Homo sapiens: one gene and its partner. The protein of the gene in region 1 purifies or fractionates together with the protein of each later gene. This does not show direct contact. Each region holds a gene or a part of one and is shown in the gene's direction. Other genes may lie near its edges.

Region 1 (4,921 bases):
AACCAGGGATGGGGAGGTTGCAGTGAGCTGAGATTGTGCCACTGCACTGCAGCCTGGGCAACAGCAAGACTATGTCTCAAAAAAAAAAAAAAAAAAAAAAGAAATTCGGAGAATTTAACACTGATACAGTGCTATTATCTAACATAAAGTCCGTAGTCACATTTTGCTAATTGGTAAATATTGTCCAAAGCAGCTTTTTTTTTTTTTTTGAGATAGGATCTCACTGTGTTGCCCAGGCTGGAGTGCAGTGGTGCAATCTCAGCTCACTGTAACCTCCGCCTCCCAGGCTTGGATGATCCTTTTACCTCAGCCTCCCAAGTAGCTGCGACCACAGGTGCTCACCACCATGGCTGGCTACTTTTTGTATTTTTTGTAGAGATGAGTTTTTGCAGTGTCACCCAGGCTGGTCTCAAACTCATGGACTGAAGGGATCTGCCTGCCTTGGGCCCCAAAAGTGCTGGGATTACAAGTATGAGCCACCAAGCCTAGCCCAAAACAACCTTTTTATTCCCAATCAAGGGTCATGCATTGCGTTTAATTGTCATTTCTCTTTAAAGTCTTTTATCTGGAACAGTTTGTCAATCTTTAATGGTGCCGACATTTTTGAAGTGTAGAGGCCACTTTTACCTATCTCTCGAGTTTTAAAAAAATGTGGCGTGGCATGGTGGCTCACACCTGTAATCCCAGCACTTTGGGAGGCCAAGGCAGGTGGATCACAAGGTCAAAAGATTGAGACCATCCTGGCCAACATGGTGAAACCCCGTCTCTACTAAAAATACAAAAATTAGCTGGGCATGGTGGCATGCCCCTGTAGTCCCAGCTACTTGGGAGGCTGAGGCAGAATTGCTTGAACCCGGGAGGCAGAGGTTGCAGTGAGCAGAGATGATGCCACTGCACTTCAGCCTGGCGACAGAGCAAGACTCTGTCTCAAAAAAAAAAAAAAAAGTATATTGTATGTGTTTAAGATTGAGGATGAAGAATTGGCCAGGCACAGTGACTCTCACCTGTAATACCAGCACTTTGGGAGGCCAAGGTAGGAGGATCACTTAAGCCTAGGAGTTCAAGACCAGCCTGGGCAACATAATGAGACCCTGCCTGTACAAAAAAAAAATAATTGATGGTCCTAGTTTCTGGTGAGTGTTATCCTGATGTATGGCTTCAAATATTCTGTTACTTTGAGCAAGATACTTTTATATATTTGCTTTGGTAGTATGCAAATTATGATAACCCTTTCTTCTTTTTTGAGACAGAGTCTTGCCCAGGCTAGAGTGCAATGGTAATGGCGCAAGCTTGGCCCACTGCAACCTCCACCCCCTGGGTTCAAGCGATTCTCCTGCCTGAGCCTCCCAAGTAGCTGGGATTACAGGCACCTGCCACCATGCCTGGCTAATTTTTTGGATTTTTTTAGTAGAGACAGAGTTTTACCATGTTGACCAGGCTGTTCTCAAACTCCTGACCTCAGGTGATCCACACACCTTGGCCTCCCAAAGTGCTGGGATTACAGGCGTGAGCCACGGCGCCCAGCCCAAACAAAGCAAGGAGTCCCTGGGTGGGCACAAAAACACTTTTTTTTTTTCTTTTTTTTTTTTTTGAGACGGAATCTCGCCCTGTCATCCAGGCTGGAGTGCAATGGTGCAATCTCGGCTCACTGCAACCTCCGCCTCCCAGGTTCAAGTGATTCTCATGCCTCAGCCTCCCGAGTAGCTGGGATTACAGGCACCCGCCACCATGCCCAGCTAATTTTTGTCTTTTTAGTAGAGACAGGATTTCACCATGTTGGCCAGGCTGGTCTCAAACTTCTGACCTCGTGCTCCACCTGCCTTGGCCTCCCAAAGTGTTGATATTACAGGTGTGAGCCACTTGCACTTGGCAATAACTTTTTTAAAAAAGTAACCATGGCCAGGCACGGTGGCTCACACCTGTAATCCCAGCACTTTGGGAGGCTGAGGCAGGTGGATCGCCTGAGGTCAAGAGTTCGAGACCAGCCTGGCCAACATGGTGAAACTCTGTCTCTACCAAAAATACAAAAATTAGCCGAACGTAGTGGTGCATGCCTGTGATCCCAGCTACTTGGGAGGCTGAGGCAGGAGAATCGCTTGAACCCGGGACACAGAGGTTGGAGTGAGCTGAGATCACGCTACTGCCCTCCAGCCTGGGCAACAGAGTGAGACTCCGTCTCAAAAAATAAAAACATTAAAAAAAAATTAAACTGCTAGTTAGATTTAGAGTTTTGCTTAAATTTAACTTCATCTTTTGGGATGTTTATTTTTGGCAAGAATACTTCATAAGTAATACTAGGCATTATGCACAAGTTTAGTGTCTATTAAAGTCAGTACGTATCATGTGGAATTTATTTGGATAAGAGAGAAACTAGTAGATAAGCAAATCAGTATTGCATCTGGTTACTGTTTTTTAGCCAGAAGATCAGCTGCCATGTTACTTGACTCACACCAACCCTAGAGTGGATGAGATTGTCCTTAAGAACCTTCACCTTAATAGTCATGTTAAAGAAACGACAAGAGGACCTCGGTAAGGACAAAATGTCAGTGCTCAGTTACTTTAAGGAATGACGTCAATCCTCTTTTGTTCATTTCAAGTTTATTTAAATGTTCTATTCTAGATACTGTCCCTCCATTGAATCAAAAGTTTTGCGTTTTCCAAACCGTCTACATCAGGTTTGGTTGGAACCTGAAGGAATGGATTCTGACCTTATCTACCCACAGGGGTTATCTATGACGCTACCAGCTGAGTTACAAGAGAAAATGATCACATGCATCAGAGGCTTGGAGAAAGCTAAAGTGATTCAGCCAGGTAAAGAAGATCACAAGTGCCCTTCAGTATAAGGTCAGCATTGTTTTAATGGTCAGTGAGGAGGCCTTAGCTACAGTCATTGTTGTTCAGAGCCTCAGAAGATGAAGCCCAACACCTATACATTTTAAATAGTCTGTTTTTTGTTTGTTTGTTTGTTTGTTTTGAGACGGAGTTTTGCTCTTGTTGCCCAGGATGGAGTGCAATGGTGCGATCTCGGCTCACCACAACCTCCCCCTGCCAGGTTCGTGATTCTTCTGCCTCAGCCTCCTGAGTAACTGGGATTACAGGCATGCATCACCATGCCCGGCTAATTTTGTATTTTTAGTAGAGACAGGGTTTCTCCCTGTTGGTCAGGCTGGTCTCAAACTCCCGACCTCAGGTGATCCACCCGCCTTGGCCCCCCAAAGTGCTGAGATTACAGGTGTGAGCCACTGCTCCTGACCTAAATAGTCTGTTTTTAAAGGGCATTTAAGGGTAATGCTTGCATCTCTACCTTGAGCAAATCCAGCTCTGTATTTACTTATTTAATGTCTTTGTTCTTTGGTCAGGCTACGGTGTTCAGTATGATTACTTAGATCCCCGTCAGATCACCCCTTCCTTGGAGACTCATTTGGTTCAACGACTCTTCTTTGCTGGACAGATCAATGGCACCACTGGTTATGAGGAAGCTGCAGCTCAAGTAAGAAGTTAAGATATTAATGTAAACTGAAAGGGACTATTTAACTGGTATTTCTCCTTTTAATGTCTGTTGTGTTAACTATGTAGATCTTAGATACAATTCATACTAATAGAAGACAATTTATGTTTCAGGGTGTTTGGAGATGGCTTTTGTAGATAATAGGGTTTTTTTTTTTTTTTTTTTTTTTTGAGACAGAGTGTTGCTCTGTTGCCAGGCTGGAGTGCAGTGATATGATCTCCCAGCTTCAAGCGATCCTCCTGCCTCAGCCCTCCCTAGTAGCTGGGACTGCAGGCATGCACCACAACACCCAGGTAATTTTTGCATTTTTAGTAGAGATATGGTTTCACTGTGTTGGCCAGGCTGGTCTCAAACTCCTGACCTCAGGTGATCCACCTGCCTTGGCTTCCCAAAGTGCTGGGATTACAGGTGTGAACCACCTTGCCCAGCCAATAATAGGATTATTAAAACACTATGGCTTTATTACTCTTTTCTGAGCTCCTGTGTGATATCATATTTTGATTAGATGTATTGCTTGTGAAGTTTAAAATTTATTTTAATATACTTCATTAGAAATTATTATATTATTATTCCTTGTAAGTCAGAAATTATTTTATTTTTATTTGCAAGTGGGAAAAGGCTAGAGAAGTTTCACAGGTGGGTTTTAAAAAAAAGATTAACCGGCTGGGCATGGTGCGTCACACCTGTAATCCCAGCACTCTGGGAGGCTGAGGAGAGAGAATTGCTTGAGCCAGGAGTTCGAGACCAGCCTGAGTGATGTAGTGAGACCCCCATCTCTACAAAAATATGTAAAAATTAGCCAGGTGTGACGGCATGTGCCTATAGTCCCAGCTACTTGGGGGGATGAGGTGGGAGGATTGCTTAAACTCAGGAAGTCGAGGCTGCAGTGAGCCAAGATTATGCCATTACACCCCAGCCTAGGTAACAGGGGAAGACCCTGTCTCCGGATAAAAAAAAGATTAGTCCCCGCAGAGTGCAGCTTATCAGGAAGATTAGATGGATATCTCTGAAAACAATGAATCATAGCCTTCTAAAGTGATATATTACCCATATTCTATTTCTGAATATGGATCACATTTTCTACCTCTATTATATCCCTTAGGGGCAATACTTGCTTTCTTCCTGTCCCATGCCATTGTTTCTGAGTAGTGTTCTGAATGGGATAGCCGTTTGTTTAGTTCATAATGGCCTTTTAAACATTTCAGTGCTCTTGTAGGGTGTGATAGCCGGAATCAACGCCAGTCTTCGGGTCAGTCGCAAGCCTCCCTTTGTGGTTAGCCGAACAGAAGGTTACATAGGAGTCTTGATTGATGACCTCACTACTCTGGGCACCAGTGAACCATACCGCATGTTTACCAGCCGAGTAGAGTTCCGTTTGTCACTGCGCCCTGATAATGCTGACAGCCGGCTCAC
Region 2 (5,186 bases), on another chromosome or scaffold:
ACGAAACAAAGATTCACCACCATCCCCTTATTAGGGTTGCCGGATAAAATACAGGATGTTCAGTTAAACTTGAATATCAGATAAACCACCAATGATTTTTTAGTATAAGTGTGTCCCAAATATTTTATGGAACATACTGACACTAAAAATAAGTATGACAAATATTGCACGGGACATACTTACGCTAAAAAAATTATTTGTAATTTATCTAAAATTCAAATTTAACTTGGCATCAGCTATTTTTGTTTGCTAAATCTGATGACCCTTATAAATTCATAATGAGCTGACCTATGATATACTTATATATTTCTGCTTAATGTCTGTCTTCCTTGTCTAGAATGGAAAGTCCACTTAGAAGAAGGACTGTTTTGTTCAGTATTCCTAGAGCCTAGAAGAGTGGACTGGTGTCTGATTCATGGTAGCTGTTCATGAAAATATTGCCAGATGAATGAATTAATGTACATTATAAATACAAGCCACACCATACAATCAGGAAAAATTACATATTGCATAATTTCAGGGTTGTAAACACAAAACTATGCACACAAACTCCACAGACACAGACACATGTTTCTACAATATACCCACACAAATCTACACATATCAAAGGCTATCTGGTATGTATCACTCTTACGCTTCAGACGTACTCATAGTCACCACACAGGCCTATGTTCCTATTGATACACTATCAAAATACCTGTTGACTGTAATTAAATACTGGAGTATCCACCAGAAGCCTGTCTCACAAACCATGTGTGTTCACTACACCTGACATAGGTCAGCCACTCAGTAAATATTTGTTGGATGGTAAATGATGCACAAACATTACCCATCCATCATATCTCTGTTCCCTTCATACCTTTCTCAGGAATGTCAAAGTCCCAAGAGGATGCCCTGCAGCCTGGATCCACTAGAGTGGCCAAAGGCTGGAGCCAAGGGGTGGGAGAAGTTACTTCTACCTCCGAATACTGCTCCTGCGTTTCTTCTTCACGCAAGCTCATCCACAGTGGTAAGGGTGCAGGGTTCCTTCGGCACGTGGCTCCTTGGCTGTGGGGTTCATTGGGCATGAAAATATTTGAGTGTGGGGCTCTGTGGGCATGAGACTCTTTGGTTGCAGTGCTGCTTGGGTGTAAGACTCTTTGGGAGTGGGGCTTTTTGGGTTTGGGGCTCCTTCGGTGTGACAGTCTTTGGGTGTGGGGCTCCTTGGATGTGACATTCTCTGGGTGTGAGGTTCCTTGAGCATGAGACTCTGGATGCAGGGCGCTATGGGTATGTGACTCTTTGGGTGCTGGACTCCTTAGGCATGGGATTGGGTGCAGGGCTCCTTGGGTAGGGGGCAGGAGGCCCATAGATCCAAGGATGAGGCTAAGAAGAAACCCAGGGCAGTTGGATATGATCAGAGCTCTGCAGAGGTGTCTGGGCAAGATGACAGAGCTGTTAGAAGAGCATGGATATAAGCTCAGTGTAGGAGAGCATGAGCCCTGGTGTGCAGTCAGGCAGTCAGGGAGCAGAGGCCAGAAAAGTCTGCTGTTGGGGTGTAGGGCCACAGGACCAGATTAAGCACTTTCATCGGAACTATTTGGGCTCTGCCTTTGCCTTCCAGAGAAAGACAGATTTCCTCAGCCCAGGCCTCCAGCACTGCAGCGGGACTCTAGCTCAGGCCCACACACCTCACACATACAGCCACACGCTCCACAGGTACACTTTCTGCACACACACCACCCAAATGCATGACCTGCAGTGCCATTCTCCCACACTACCTCCCACATTCCACAAATAACACATCAATGATGGCACCAACTCACATCCTCATAGCACACACATGCTGCCGACATTCCACATATGCTGCAGTCCTCACCACCATACTCCACACCCCTGTATATGGACACCCCACCAACATCCCTACACGCAAATGACACTAGAATCACTACCCCACAATATGAACAACAAATACCAAGCTCACTACACAGCTGCATCTCACCACAGTCCCTGTCTCCTGCACCACACATATTTAACTTACGTTCCCTCAGCTCCTAGCATGGCCCATGCATCTGCTCATGTTTCTAATTTCCTTTCCCAGGAATCCAGAGAATACATCGAGACAGCCCCCAGCCTCAATCACCCCTGGCCCAGGTTCAGGAACGAGGAGAGACTCCTCCCCGCTCACAACATGTCTCCTTGTCGTCCTATTCATCCTATAAGACTTGTGTGTCCTCTCTGTGTGTAAACAAAGAGGAAAGGGGCATGAAAATATACTACATGCAGGTACAAATGAACAAAGGTGTGGCTGTCTCCTGGGAGACAGAGGAAACTTTGGAGTCCTTAGAAAAGCAGCCAAGGATGGAAGAAGTGACCCTTTCTGAGGTTGTGAGGGTAGGTACTCCCCCCTCTGATGTGTCCACCAGAAACCTCCTGTCTGACAGTGAGCCCAGTGGGGAGGAGAAAGAGCATGAGGAAAGGACAGAATCAGACAGCCTGCCAGGCTCACCCACCGTTGAGGACACACCCAGAGCCAAGACTCCTGACTGGCTGGTGACCATGGAGAACGGCTTCAGGTGCATGGCCTGCTGCCGGGTGTTCACCACCATGGAAGCCCTCCAGGAGCATGTGCAGTTTGGGATCAGAGAGGGCTTCAGCTGCCACGTCTTTCATCTCACCATGGCTCAGCTGACAGGCAACATGGAATCAGAGAGCACCCAAGATGAGCAGGAGGAGGAAAATGGAAATGAGAAGGAGGAGGAAGAGAAACCAGAAGCAAAGGAGGAGGAGGGGCAGCCCACAGAAGAAGACCTTGGCCTGAGGAGATCCTGGAGCCAATGTCCAGGCTGTGTGTTTCATTCTCCAAAGGACAGGAAGTGAGCAAAGCCTGGGTTGTGGGTCTGCTGAGGGAGCAATGGCTTCCCCGAGCCAGTACTGTCTCCCCAGTTCAGGCTTAGGTCTCTGTAAGGAAGATTTGGGGGCTTTATTGGCTCAGGGAACAATGGAGGGGGACATAACTGGGATCCCTGCTTCTTGCCTAGGCATCTAATAAAGTCTCGATTGTAAGTCAGGATTTGTCTTGACCTTTCCAGCTCCTGCAGGAAATTCTGAGAATTTCAAAAGTCGCATTAACTAAGAAGTGTCTTTCTTTGGTTTGATTTTCACACAGCAGCTGAGACTTATGGGCCAGAAGATACTGGAAGATGGTGTGGCCTTCTCTTGCAAGAGGTAAGGAGTGAGACTTGCAGTTTTCTGAGGCTGTGTTGTGAGGGCCCAGAGGAATCCAAGGGAAGGAGCTGCAGGGATGCACTGGGTCACCTGGTGGCTCTGCAGCCACATCAACTTATCGTGCACCTGGTGCTTCTGGGGGAATTGTCCTCCATTTGCTTAGATGACAAGGTGAAGAGCATTGACTGGGAACTTTCTCAATGTCTGCATGATTGTCCTCAATTCTAAGAGGAGGTGCTGCAGCTCTTCTAGGCAGCGGAAGCTCAGTGTAACCTCAAGGGCCAGGATTGGCCTGAAAGGACAGGATGCCAGCAAGATCAGAGGTGTGGAGTCTGAGAGCCTTTGGCCTGAGCTGGGATCCCACCTGAGCCCATAGATATAGCCCTTGGGGAAAAGGGGAATTTGGAGAGGTAACAACATCATCCTGATGAGACACCAAGAGAACTGGAAATGTTTCAGAACCTTCATTTTGCTGCATTTGATCTGGAAATGAACTCACTGTGGGTTGCATGACTCTGAGCTTCAAAACAAAGGTGAAGGGTAACTGACTAGCAATGCTTGTATTGTTTCTTGCCTCTTCCTCTTCTGCCTCAATTGTTTTCTTCACTTCCAGGGAGAAGAAAGAGCCATGGAGATAGTAGCAGACAGGCTGCCCAAGGTATGAAGCAGATGAGGGACCAGCACTCAGTCTAACATGTAAACATCATACGTAATAAAGGTTGTGTTTCAAACCTTACCTGGATATATTATTTAATTAACAAATTAATCTACCTATCTATTCATCATTTTCTTTTTTTTTCCTTTTTCTTTTTCTTCTTCTTCTTCTTTTTTTTTTTTTGAGATGGAGTTTCATTTTTGTTGCCCAGGCTGGAGTGCGATGGCATGATCTCGGCTCACTGCAACCTCTGCCTCCTGAATTAAAGTGATTCTCCTGCCTCAGCCTCCCAAGTAGCTGGGATTACAGGCATGTGCCAGCACACACAGCTAATTTTGTATTTTTTTAGTAGAGATGAGGTTTCACCATGTTGGTCAGGCTGGTCTCGAACTCCTGGGCTCAAGTGTTCTACCCGCCTGGGCCTCCCAAAGTGCTGGGTTTGCAGGCGTGAGCCACGGCGCCCAGCCCTATTCATTATTTTCATCTATCTCTCCAGTGGTTTGTGAACGAAGTTTTACATCAGCACTAAAGATATCTACCAGCCTTTTCCAGAGGCAGCAATAGCCAAGCTCCTGGGTTTGATTAGACTTCTGTGTGACAATTTTTTCAAGGCTGGATATCACATTTCATATGAGACCATGACAAACTCCACTACATACCTATGTTTCCATCATCCCGCTTTATTAAGCTTAGCATTTTTCTACGTTTGCTTCAGATGGCTTTGAAGTAAAAATGATTACAAATACAGCCATAGTCCCCTGTTCCATTGCCTTACATATGGATTTTGAGTATTTTTTAATACTTCTGTGCATGTTTTATACTATTATATAAATATATAAAGTGTTTTGAATATCTTGAAAGTTTCACATACTATTGTACTTCATTATTAGTTTTCAACTTGTTTTTATTAAAAAACAGGTTTTTAAGATTATCCATTGTCATACACATATCTGTAGTTAACTAATTTTTACTACTGTATTATAGTTCATTCTATGAATATGCCAACTTTTTATTTATTGTCTTTTTGATGAAATTTCAGTTGCATCCAAATTTCCTCTATTACCACAGAATGTGTGTCTCTCTCTAGAATGTATACCCAGACATCCATTGCTGTGCTGAATTATATAGATATTTCAGTTTAGTAGTTACTGCCGTGGTGTATTTCTTTCTTTGTTCAAGCATTTTTTTTCTTTCTTCATTCTTCAATAATGATTAATGCTTTTCTGCACAAATGTTATATACAATTTTTATTCGATGCAGTCCAAGATATCTTTTCTTTTCATTCTCCTTGTAAATGGTATGTTTTTTCTATTATATCTTAGAA

The links.
Region 2: the proteins of MTO1 (region 1) and FAM170A purify together in Homo sapiens (co-immunoprecipitation; one large-scale study listed by IntAct). This does not show direct contact.

The regions. Positions count from the first base shown.
Region 1 is NC_000006.12:73,477,316-73,482,236, forward strand, and holds part of MTO1 (5-taurinomethyluridine-[tRNA] synthase subunit MTO1, mitochondrial), read left to right. Parts: intron 1-2,416; coding exon 2,417-2,529; intron 2,530-2,620; coding exon 2,621-2,811; intron 2,812-2,977; coding exon of another isoform or gene 2,978-3,052; intron 3,053-3,359; coding exon 3,360-3,490; intron 3,491-3,681; coding exon of another isoform or gene 3,682-3,801; intron 3,802-4,713; coding exon of another isoform or gene 4,714-4,724; coding exon 4,725-4,921. UniProt on the Homo sapiens protein: Component of the GTPBP3-MTO1 complex that catalyzes the 5-taurinomethyluridine (taum(5)U) modification at the 34th wobble position (U34) of mitochondrial tRNAs (mt-tRNAs), which plays a role in mt-tRNA decoding and mitochondrial translation.
Region 2 is NC_000005.10:119,631,880-119,637,065, forward strand, and holds the end of FAM170A (protein FAM170A), read left to right. Parts: intron 1-868; coding exon 869-1,009; intron 1,010-2,080; coding exon 2,081-2,855; intron 2,856-3,148; coding exon 3,149-3,155; 3' UTR 3,156-3,207; intron 3,208-3,820; 3' UTR 3,821-3,943; downstream 3,944-5,186. UniProt on the Homo sapiens protein: Acts as a nuclear transcription factor that positively regulates the expression of heat shock genes. Binds to heat shock promoter elements (HSE).